Homo sapiens: one gene and its partners. The protein of the gene in region 2 purifies or fractionates together with the protein of the main gene of each other region. This does not show direct contact. Each region holds a gene or a part of one and is shown on either strand. Other genes may lie near its edges.

Region 1 (3,656 bases), on a different chromosome or scaffold from region 2:
CACGGAGGCTGAGTGACTGCAGGCTCACAGAGCTAGAATGTAGCAGAGCTGGGGTTTCACCCAAGTAACCTGGTTCCAGAGTCCATGCTAGTGGTATGTTAAGGAAGAAAGATCAATCTAGACAGAAAAATATGCATAAACACCACTGCAATGAGGTGAGCCAAAGCACAACTACTAAACAGAAAAGAAAATGAAAGGGCAGTTAGAAAGAGAAGAGAGTTCTTCAGGGCCACAGAAGCCGAGAGGGGAAAGCCAATAAAGAGAGGTCATCATGACCTACAGACTGCTGGCCCCAGGAGACTGGGTTCTTTAGTTTGTTTTTGATTGCCCAGTACCCAGCACAGTATCTATCAAATAAGCGCACAATAAAAGCTTGCTGGATATTGATAAATGAAGGAATGAAATTATATGCACAAGCTGAAGTGACAACCTGCGCTCTGGGTGAGCCGCCTCACTCCCAGCCAGCCTGGGATCTGGCTATGCTCTCCTGCTCCCACGCTTGGCTGGCACCGTTCCAACTTCTCGGAAAGCCCTTCCCAATCCTCGCCCCACAACTGACATCCTACTCTCACTTTAAAATTGACTTCAATAAAATTTTGGCATGTGACAATCGCTTCCTCCTCTAAACTATTCATAATATGGTTGGAAATAATGTGTTAAATGACAATTCCTCCATAATCTTAAACTGTTATTTAAATGTTAATTTCCTTATTTGAGCACATTTTATCTTAAATAGCTCTGCGCTATTCAGAGACACAGAAGTTTCTTATATTTTATCTTATAGTACCCACAAAGTCTATTTACCATGCCTTACACATAATTAGTACTCAGGCAAGCTTTATCAATTTTCAAAAATTCTAATAGAAAACATCCTCTGAGACTCACCAAAGAAAATAACTGGAAACCTATACAGCCCTCCACATTCTTACCTATAAATTTCTGACTAAAAGCTCACATTTAATCAAATATCTGGAACAGTTACAGATGTTACCTGTATCTATAAAACAGAGTATCTTCATGTAAAATTAATGTATGAAAATAAAATTATATCATTAATCTCATTAGCACAATTTCTAAAAAAAGGTTAAGAGTATGAAAAGTACTACTGATCAAAAAAGTGTAAGTTTGAACTGTTTCTAAACAGCGTAAAGCAAAATCAACAGCTTAGTTTTAAGCCTAAAGAGGCCTTTAAGTCCAAAAATTTATTAACTATCCTATAAATCAGCCCTTTTATATTTAAATAAGATGTTTTAATAAAAATAATAGCAAGTTGAGTGCTTCTGTTGGCTTATGCAGAGAAGCCTCAGAACACCAAGGTAGGGCCTGGTAGAGCCCACTTCATACACAGTATGGAATGAATGGAGGATCAAGTGAGGCAACGAGGAGTTGGGATTTGTTCCAGACAGTTTAGCTCATGACCCAACACTCTTGAGGATCAAAAACCAGAACAGATATGCCACAGAATCACAGTCAGCACATTCCTAATTTTCATTAAAATTTGCATTGATACAATCTGAATGCATCTCATTTTGTTTTTAAGGAATATCTTCTAGTATGAAAACCTTAATTTACTATATATGCACTAATCTGCATGGCTAAACTAAGCAGCCAATAATTAAAATAGAAAAAGATAACACAGAATTCTACTTACTTCCCCAGTGGTTGGCCCTTTTTCTTTCTGTTGACAGCGCCTGATCACTTCTAATAATAAGGGTCCACCCACAGTACCTTCTGCTTCAATTATACCTAAATCTCGGGCTAAATTCTCTCGACCTTCGAGACCTTGCAGCTAGAAAAGAAGTTAAAATACAAGTGCACAAAAAAATAGCAGAAGTTATTCTCAAGGAGTAAAGAAGATATTTTCAGAGTTTAAAGACATCTTTAAACTCAAAGAGACTGTCTTACTAATGAATGAAATGTCTATTTTAAAAAATTATGCCTATTTCTTTTACAGAGCCTCTACCTTCAACGTTTCCATTAACAGGTGCACTCTAACATCGTATCAAAATTAACTCTATAGTAACACTTTTATTAGCAAGCTTTCAAGTAACACAAAGCAGCAACACTGGTGCCAGCTATCTGAAAGCTCATATGGCTTTTAAGAAAAACAGATAATCAACTACCAAAAATAATCTAAATGTAAAAAACTATCAGTTGTCAAATTCTATTAACTTTCAGCTTAATATTAACTCATTTGTATCAAAGGTTTCAAAAGATAGATGTAAAAATCATTATTCTTACTGTGCTAGTTTCAGGTTGAAAAACAGCCAAAGTAAAGTCAAGGTTAAAAAACTGAAGAAATTCTGCAACAAGACTAGCCACTAAACGACCTATAAAGATCAAGAAAAAGGTAAGTAAGCAAATCTTCAAAAACTGAATTTTTTAAATTAACATTATGAAATAGATACACTAAATTAATGGAAGAAAGGTTTCTAAATTTTTTAAGTTACAAATTTCCTCTTTGAATAATATGATTAAGTAATGAAAATCTCAATCTCCTGATTTTTTCACTGGGATCATCAGTCTGTAACTAACTGTAAGACAATCATCTCATAGATTTCAGTGTTTCGCTTTTTAATGGTTAATATTGGCTTTTTGTAGTAAAACTGGCTTTAAGCAACAACATCCCAAATCCAAAAATATGTAATAGCAACACGATTGTTGTACAATAAAATATTATTTTAAAATGAGGACCTATAACAATTGAAGACAAAAAAAAAGCCCTGAAATTCCTGATTTCTCCCAAATGGTATCAAGATTCAAAAATTCAGAGATAGATAAACAAGAACAAACTGAACATCTTACCGTCTTTGGTATTTAAAAACTTTTTCAGGCTCTCATTAACTAAAGGAGTTTTGTTCTGTTAAAAAAAAAAAAATTTAAGTGTCATGTGTTTACCCTAAAAACAACTACAAAATATAAAGTTTAACGTTTTCATTGATAAAATTATGGTTTTACAAAATCCATTCTACAACTGTTAATTACTACAGGACTTACTTTGTGCTATTTAGTAATTTCTCAAAGTTAATATAACAAAACCATATATGAAGATTTGTATTTTTAATTTTTAAATGTTTTATAAACTGCTTTTGAAGCTAGATATTTTCAAATACCTGTGTGAAATACAATTAAATGTCAACAACTGTTTATTATTTCAAATACATGAAGTTTGATAAAAGTTTTGTCATCTCAGGTATCTACCATTTATAGCATACTTACTATGAACAGGAATTTAATTATACACTTGTAATTCCCAGTTTATCCATGAAATGTGAGATGATCTTATGCGGCCCATAGGCCAACTTATTTTTGTAATTATACATTTATTTGAATAAGTATGGAAAAAATACTTCTAGACCATCAAGCCTGTGATTGTTGCTGAGAAGAGGCTACAGTAGGTAGCACATGGTAAGCTTCCTTAAGACCACATTAATTGCTGCTACAGTGGCAGCCTCATACACTGCTGATGGGAATGCAAAATGGCATAACGAGTTTGGACAGCAATTTGGTAGTGTTTCTTAAAAGTCACAAATATTCCTAGCATGTGACCTAGTCACTTCACCTCTACATATTTTCTCAAGAGAAATCACAGATCCAAGCAAAGACTTGTATGTGACTGTTCACAGAAACCTTATTTGTAATACTCAAAAACTGGA
Region 2 (3,656 bases):
ACAAGTTGGGGTTCTTGCCCACTTGGGCATACAGGACATTCCTGTACCACATTCACCCCACCTAACCCATCATGTACAATAAACAGGAAAATTACATACATTCATTCTCAAGCTTGACTTAGATAATCTATCCAGCCCTGACCAAGATTTCTATAGTCACAGCACAGAACACACCACCTCAACGTGGGAAAGTGTATAAACATGAAAATAATGAGCAGGCTATGCCAATTAAAATACTTCAATGTAAATATAAAGGGATTTCCACTCCAACTAAAAGTGAAAACTATCTCCAGAAAAAGAGAAAAATTCCATTTCTAACAGATCTTGTGATATGTGTGTGTGTGTAAACGCGTGTGTCTAAGTACAAATCAAATTCACTTTGACACTCATCCATACATGAAGCAAGTACTTCCAGAAAGCTCCCTTCCTCACAATGTGATGCCTACAGACCCTGGCTATTCTAAATTTTTGCCATGCACATGTTAGCATACGGAACAACACAAAAAGCAAAGAAACTAGTCACTAGCACCATCAAAATAATCACAGGATAACAAAAATAGAAATGATTTCTAATGAAGTTATAAACTCATTCCTAGTAACTGTCCTAAACTAAACACACATTTAAAGAACATATTCAGATGCCAAAGCACAGAGAAAATGCAAAGCATCTATGAGAACAACTGGGCTGAGTACTCAAGTCCAACAAAAAGGACATAAAAACACGTGGCAACATTAAACATAGGCTCCACAAATACCAATGAAATATGAGGAATGAGATTCTGAAGTACTTCTCAGAAAACGCTGGGGGTTCTGATAAGCATGAAACAACCCATCATTACCACAAGATGAACAGGAGCCTCTCCTTCATTCATTTCACAGCAACACAGACTTGGCGAGCTTAAACAATACACAGGCCGTCTGGCTCATATGCAACAAAATTAAGCCATTAAATAGGCATCCCATAAAGATCACTTGACCCTAAGACAAAACTAAAGAGGAGTTAGCTGCATGCCACAAAGACAAAAACATTTCATTTTAGGTCTCCATCTCCTTCTCCATCCCCTTGGATGGACTTTTTGATGCGAAGCAACATGGTGGTCAGCCACTGATCCAAGCGAGATATTGAGTCAAATTCCTTCACCTAGTATAAGGAAAGAGGAACAGGAATTACCCCATGTAAATACATTAAAAACACAAAATAATAGTACCCCAAGCTGTTTATACCTTTACAGCCATAATCTACTAACTTTCTTCATCATTTGAAATTAATCATTCCAGTTTATAACTTTCTTCATTAAAAAATTGTTTATTTTTTCATTATCCTGTTACTATTTTGATACTAGTGACAAGTTCCTGGGCTTGACATTTCTCTGTTTTCAAACGTGTAAGAAAAAAATTCATTAACAGTCATAATTATTGTGGCAAAAGTAACTGGATATTGTATAAAAATTTGAAAGGAATATGGAAAATTAATACTCACTGAACATGGGAAAACATTAATTACAGAGTTAGAATATGTATGGAAGCGGAATTAACACATTTCAATGCATTACCCAAAAATAAAATTACAATAGGATGAAAATGATGTGGTAGGCAAAAGTCAGACAGGAAAACATTCCTTTCCTCTATCACTCCTGAGCTGTGATGAACATGTTACAGGAGGCTACTGAGAAATTTGCTTGAGGCTGGATGTAGTGGCTCATGCCTGTAATCCTTGAAGTCTGGGAGGCCAAGGCAGGTGGATAGCTTAAGCCCAGGAGTTAAGAGACCAGCCTGGGCAACATGGTGAAACCTTGTCTCAACAAAAAATGCAAAAAAAAAAAAAAAAATTAGCTGGGGGTGGTGGTGTGCACCTGTAGTCCCAGGTACTTAGGAGTCTCAGGTGGGAGGATCACCTGAACCCAGGAGGTTGAGGGTGCAGTGAGCCGTGATCACACCACAGCACTCCAGCCTGAGTGACAGAGTGAGGATCTGTTTCAAAATATATAAAAACATTTTTTTTTGCTTGATTCTAAACATGAGATGGCAAAAGATGGAAAAACAAAAAGTATAAAGAAAAAAACCCTCATATTTTTAATATATATATATATTTATTATTTATTTATTTATTTTTGAGATGGAGTTTCACTCTTGTTGCCCAGGCTGGAATGCAATGGCGTGATCTTGGCTCACTGCAACCTCCACCTCCTGGGTTCAAGAGATTCTCCTGCCTCAGCCTCCCGAGTAGCTGGTATTACAGGCACACTCCACCATGCCTGGCTAATTTTTGTATTTTTAGTAAAGATGGTGTTTTGCCATGTTGGCCAAGCTGGTCTCAAACTCCTGATCTCAGGTGATCCACCCGCCTTGGCCTCCCAAAGTGCTAGGATTATAGGTGTGAGCCACCGTGCCTGGCCACCTTCCATTTATTTCATGCCACAAATACAGCAAATTCTCACTACTTAGTTTTTATATTTTAAATTATATTTAATTTTTTTTTTCTTTTTTTTTTTGAGACAGAGTCTCGCTCTGTCACCAGGCTGGAGTGCAGTGGTGCAATCTCAGCTCACTGCAACCTCTGCCTCCCGGGTTCAAGCGATTCTCCTGCCTCAGCCTCCCGAGTAGCTGGGACTACAGGCGTGTGCCAGCATGCCTGGCTAATTTTTATATTTTTAGTAGAGACGGGGTTTCACCATGTTGGCGAGGATGGTCTCAATTTCCTGACTCATGATCTGCCTGCCTCGGCCTCCGAAAGTGCCAGGATTACAGGTGTGAGACGCCGTGCCTGGCCTTAACTAATTTTACTTTATACTTATTTATGGGTCAGATTATTTTCAAAAGAAAAAATTAAAACAGCAAATTATAAGAATATAAATGGAATATTTGCTCCTGAACTAGTCTCACAGCTAAATTAGTTTTGAGTGTAAGTCGAATCTCAGCATGGCTAATGGAACTGTTTAATTTGTGTGATATATAAAAGGTGACGTTTGGAAAATACAACTTAAGGTATGCTGGAGTCATGTTCAAATAAATGTTTAGAATTCACATAATGAAAAGGAAAAGAAGTTTCTTTAACTTAAATCTTCAAATAATGTACCATGTCCCAAAAGCATAACTTACTGCTTCAGTGTAAGCTTCACTGTTCTGTTCTTCATGAGCTTCTAGGAGTTTCTGGTAGCATAAAAATATTTTAAAAAACAGTTCTGTAAGATGAAGTCCCATTTCTAAATATATACTTTAAGTATAATACCAATGTTGCCAAATATTGCACAAAACTGAGGAAATACTCATATACAAGTCAAGAGCCAAGTTAGGGATCTAGCTTCTGTAGTAACATTTCTCAGGTGCCTATTTCAGAACACAACTACATGTTTCTGACCTTAATTGCATTTGAACACCTATAATACGAAAGCAGGAAAGTACCAGGGCCCCTCAGTTAGCAGACTTTATAGATTAAAACTTCACTTCATACCCAATCCCACTTAGGTGTTGTCACCTAACAGAACAAAAGCATTTTTCTTCAAAGTTCTAATATTACTTACTTTCAATAATTTACATTCTCTTGAATCAGTAAATGCTGGAAACATTTCCTCATATTTCTCAAGAGCAAGCTGAGAGAGAAAAACCACTCATCAATTTCAGACTTACTAAACAAACAAAGCTTTCAACATTCTATC
Region 3 (3,656 bases), about 18 Mb from region 2:
CATTTGATAAAATTCTACATCCACCGGGTGTGGTGGCTCACGCCTGTAATCCCAGTACTTTGGGAGGCTAGGGTGGGCCTCACACTGACCATAATTAACACACAACGGGAAACATAGTCAGAGGGGTGCAGTGGCTAAAGCCTGTAATTCCAGCACTTTGGGAGGCTGAGGCAGGAGGATTGCTTGAGCCTAGGAGTTTAAGACCAGCCTGGGCAACATAATGAGATCTCATCTCTACCAAACAAACAAAAAAATTAGCTAGGTATGGTGACTCACACCTGTAACTCCAGCTACTTGGGAAGCTGAGGTGGGAGGATCGACTGAGCCCTGAAGATTGAGGTTGCAGAGAGCTGTGATCACACCACTGTACTCCTGGACTGCTTGAGTCTAGGAGTTCGAGATCAGCCTGGGCAACACGGCAAAACCTCATCTATACAAAAAATGAAAAAAAAATTAACCAAGTGTGGTGGCACATGCCTGTGGTCCCAGTTATTTGGGAGGCTGAGGTTGCAGTGAGCCGAGATGGTGCCACTGCACTCCAGCCTGGATGACACAGTGAGATTCTGTCTCAAAAAAAAAAAAACAAACAAAAAAACCAAAAAACAAAAAAACATACACTGGGGAAAGAACCAGTCTTTTCAATAAATGGTATTAGGAAAACTGGATATCCATATGCTGAAGAATGAAACTAGACCCCTCAAATCTCTTGACATATACAAAAATCAAATGAGAATGGATTAAACACTTAAATGTAAGACCTAAAACTATGAAACTACTATAAGAAAACATGGGGGAAACTCTCCAGGATGCTGGACTGGGCAAAGATTTCTTGAGTAATGCCCCCAAAAGCACAAGCAACCAAAACAAAAACAGATAAATGAGATCACATCCGGTTAAAAAGCTTCTGTACAGCAAAGGAAGAGACAACCCACAGAATGGGAAAAAATATATGCAAAGTATCCATCTGACAAGGAATTAATAACCAGAATATATAAGGAGCTCAAACTCTGTAGGAAAAAAAATCTAATAATCCAATCAAAAATGGGCATTTCTCAAAAGAAGACATACAAATGGCAAATAGGTATATGAAAAGGTGCTTAACATCATTGATCAAAGAAATGCAAATCAAGACTACAATGAGATATCATCTCATCCTAGTTAAAATGGCTTTTTAAAAAATATAGACACAAGGTCTCGCTATGTTGCGCAGGCTGGTCTCGAACTCCTGGGCTCAAGTGATCCTCCTGCCTCGGCCTCCAAAAGTGCTGGGACTACAGGCGTGAGCCACTGCACCCAGCCAAAATGGCTTTTATCCAAAAAAAACGGCAATAACGAATGCTAGCGAGGACGTGGAGAAAAGGGAACCCTCGTACAATGTTGATGGGAATGTAAATTAGTATAGCCACTATGGAGAACAGTATGAAATAGAACTACCATATGATCCAGCAATCACAGCTAGGTATATACCCAAAAGAAAGGAAATCAGTTTATCAAAGAGGTATCTGCACTTCCATATTTATGACAGCACTATTCACAACAGCCAAGATCTGGAAGCAACCAAAGTGTTCTTCAACAGACAAGTGAATAAAGAAAATATGGTACATATATGCAATGGAGTACTATTCAGCCACTAAAAAGAATGAGATCCTGTCACTTGCAACAACATGGATGAAACTGGAGAACGTTATGTTAAGTGAAATTAAGCCAGGCACAGAAAGACACACTTTCCATGTTCTCACTCATTTGCGGGAACTAAAAATTAAAACAATTGAACTCATGGATATTGTAGAATGATGGTTACCAAAGGCTGGGAAAGGTAGGGGGGAATGGGGAAGGTTAACGGGTACAAAATATAGTTACATAGAATGAATAAGCTCTAGTATTTGATAGCACAAAGTGACTAGAGAATAATTTATTGTACATTTAAAAATATAATAACTAAGGCTGGACGTGGTAGCTCACGCCTGTAATCCCAGCACTTTAGGAGGCCCACGCGGGCAGGCCGCTTGAGGTCAGGAGTTCATGACCAGCCTGGCCAACATGGCAAAAACCCATCTCTACTAAAAATACAAAAATAAGCCAAGTGTGCTGGCTTGCCACCATAGTCCCAGCTAACTCAGGAGGCTGAGGCAGGAGAATCACTTGAACCCACGAGCCGGAGTTTGCAGTGAGCTGAGATCCTGCCACTGCACTCCAGCCTGGGTGACAGAACAAGACTCTGTCTCCAAAATATATATATATGTATGTATGTATGTATGTGTATATGTATATATATAACTAAAAATAGGCCAGGCACAGTGGTTCATGCCTGTAATCCCAACACTTTGGGAGGCCAGCCTGGGCAACATGGCGAAACCCCATCTCTACTAAAAATACCAACATTAGCCGGGTGCGGTGGCGCACGTCTGTAATTCCAGCTACTCGGGAGGCTGAGGCACAAGAATAGCATGAACCTGGGAGGCGGAGGTTGCAGTTAGCCGATATTATGCCACTGCACTCCAGCCTGACTCTGTCTCAAAATAAATAAATAAATAAAAGTATAATTGGAATGTAATACAAATGATGAATGCTTGAGGGGATGGATACCCCATTTAGCCTGATGTGATTATTATGAATGCATGGCTGTATCAAAATACCTCATGTATCCCCTAAGTATATACACCTACTATGTACCCATAAAAATTGGAAAAAAAATTGGCCAGGGGCAATGGTTCACACCTGCAATCCCAGCACTTTGGAAGGCTGAGGCAGGCAGACTGCTTGACCTCAGGAGTTAGAGATCAGCCTGGGCAACATAGTGAAACCCTGTCTCTACACAAAATAAAACAAACAAAAATAAGTAAATAAAAAATAAAATTAGCTGGGTGTGGTGGCACACACGTGTAGTCCCAGCTACTCGGGAGGCTGAGGTGAGAGGATCGCTTGAGCCCAGGGAGGTAAAGGTTGTGCCACTGCACTCTAGCTTGGATGACAGAGCAAGACCCTGTCTCAAAAAAAACAGACCACTGGGACGGACAAACACACACACACACACACACACACACACACACACACACACACGCACACTAGAGCCTTGGCTAACATTTTAAAAATCTCACAACTTATTCCCACATGCCCGTCAGCTTACCCCTTTGCTGATGTAGCCTGACAGCAGGAGGGAGCCTATAATAATGAGAAAGGCGCCAATCAAAAACAGCACAGTGGCAAGTGCGATGGCCTTATAAGGGATCTTAGGAGGGGTTTTCTTAAACTGGAAGAGAAATAGAGATGAAAAAGACAACGAAGAACATTAATGCAAATACCTGGGTTCAAACATTTAATTAATTATTTGTAATTTTTATGTTTTTGTTTGTTTGTTTTGAGATGGAGTTTCGTTCTTGTTGCCCAGGCTAGAGAGCAATGGCGTGATCTTGGCTCACTGCAACCTCTGCCTCCTGGATTCAAGTGATTCTCCTGTCTCAGCCTCCTGAGCAGCTGGGGTTACAGGTGCCCGCCACTACACCCAGCTAATTTTTTTGGTATTTTTAGTAGAGACAGGGTTTCACCTTGTTGACCTGGCTGGGCTTGAACTCCTGACCTCAGGTGATCCGCCCGCCTCGGCCTCCCAAAGTGCTGGCATTACAGGCGTGAGCCACCGCGCCCGGCCTAATTTTTAT

What was found.
Region 1: the proteins of NAPB (region 2) and CEP43 purify together in Homo sapiens (co-immunoprecipitation; one large-scale study listed by IntAct). This does not show direct contact.
Region 3: the proteins of NAPB (region 2) and TMEM230 fractionate together in Homo sapiens (co-fractionation; one large-scale study listed by BioGRID). This does not show direct contact.

Annotation. Positions count from the first base shown.
Region 1 is NC_000006.12:167,002,397-167,006,052, reverse strand, and holds part of CEP43 (centrosomal protein 43), read right to left. Parts: intron 2,861-3,656; coding exon 2,806-2,860; intron 2,331-2,805; coding exon 2,242-2,330; intron 1,790-2,241; coding exon 1,652-1,789; intron 1-1,651. UniProt on the Homo sapiens protein: Required for anchoring microtubules to the centrosomes. Required for ciliation.
Region 2 is NC_000020.11:23,376,346-23,380,001, forward strand, and holds part of NAPB (beta-soluble NSF attachment protein), read right to left. Parts: intron 3,591-3,656; coding exon 3,522-3,590; intron 3,151-3,521; coding exon 3,100-3,150; intron 1,142-3,099; coding exon 1,031-1,141; 3' UTR 1-1,030. UniProt on the Homo sapiens protein: Required for vesicular transport between the endoplasmic reticulum and the Golgi apparatus.
Region 3 is NC_000020.11:5,103,061-5,106,716, forward strand, and holds part of TMEM230 (transmembrane protein 230), read right to left. Parts: intron 3,251-3,656; coding exon 3,128-3,250; intron 1-3,127.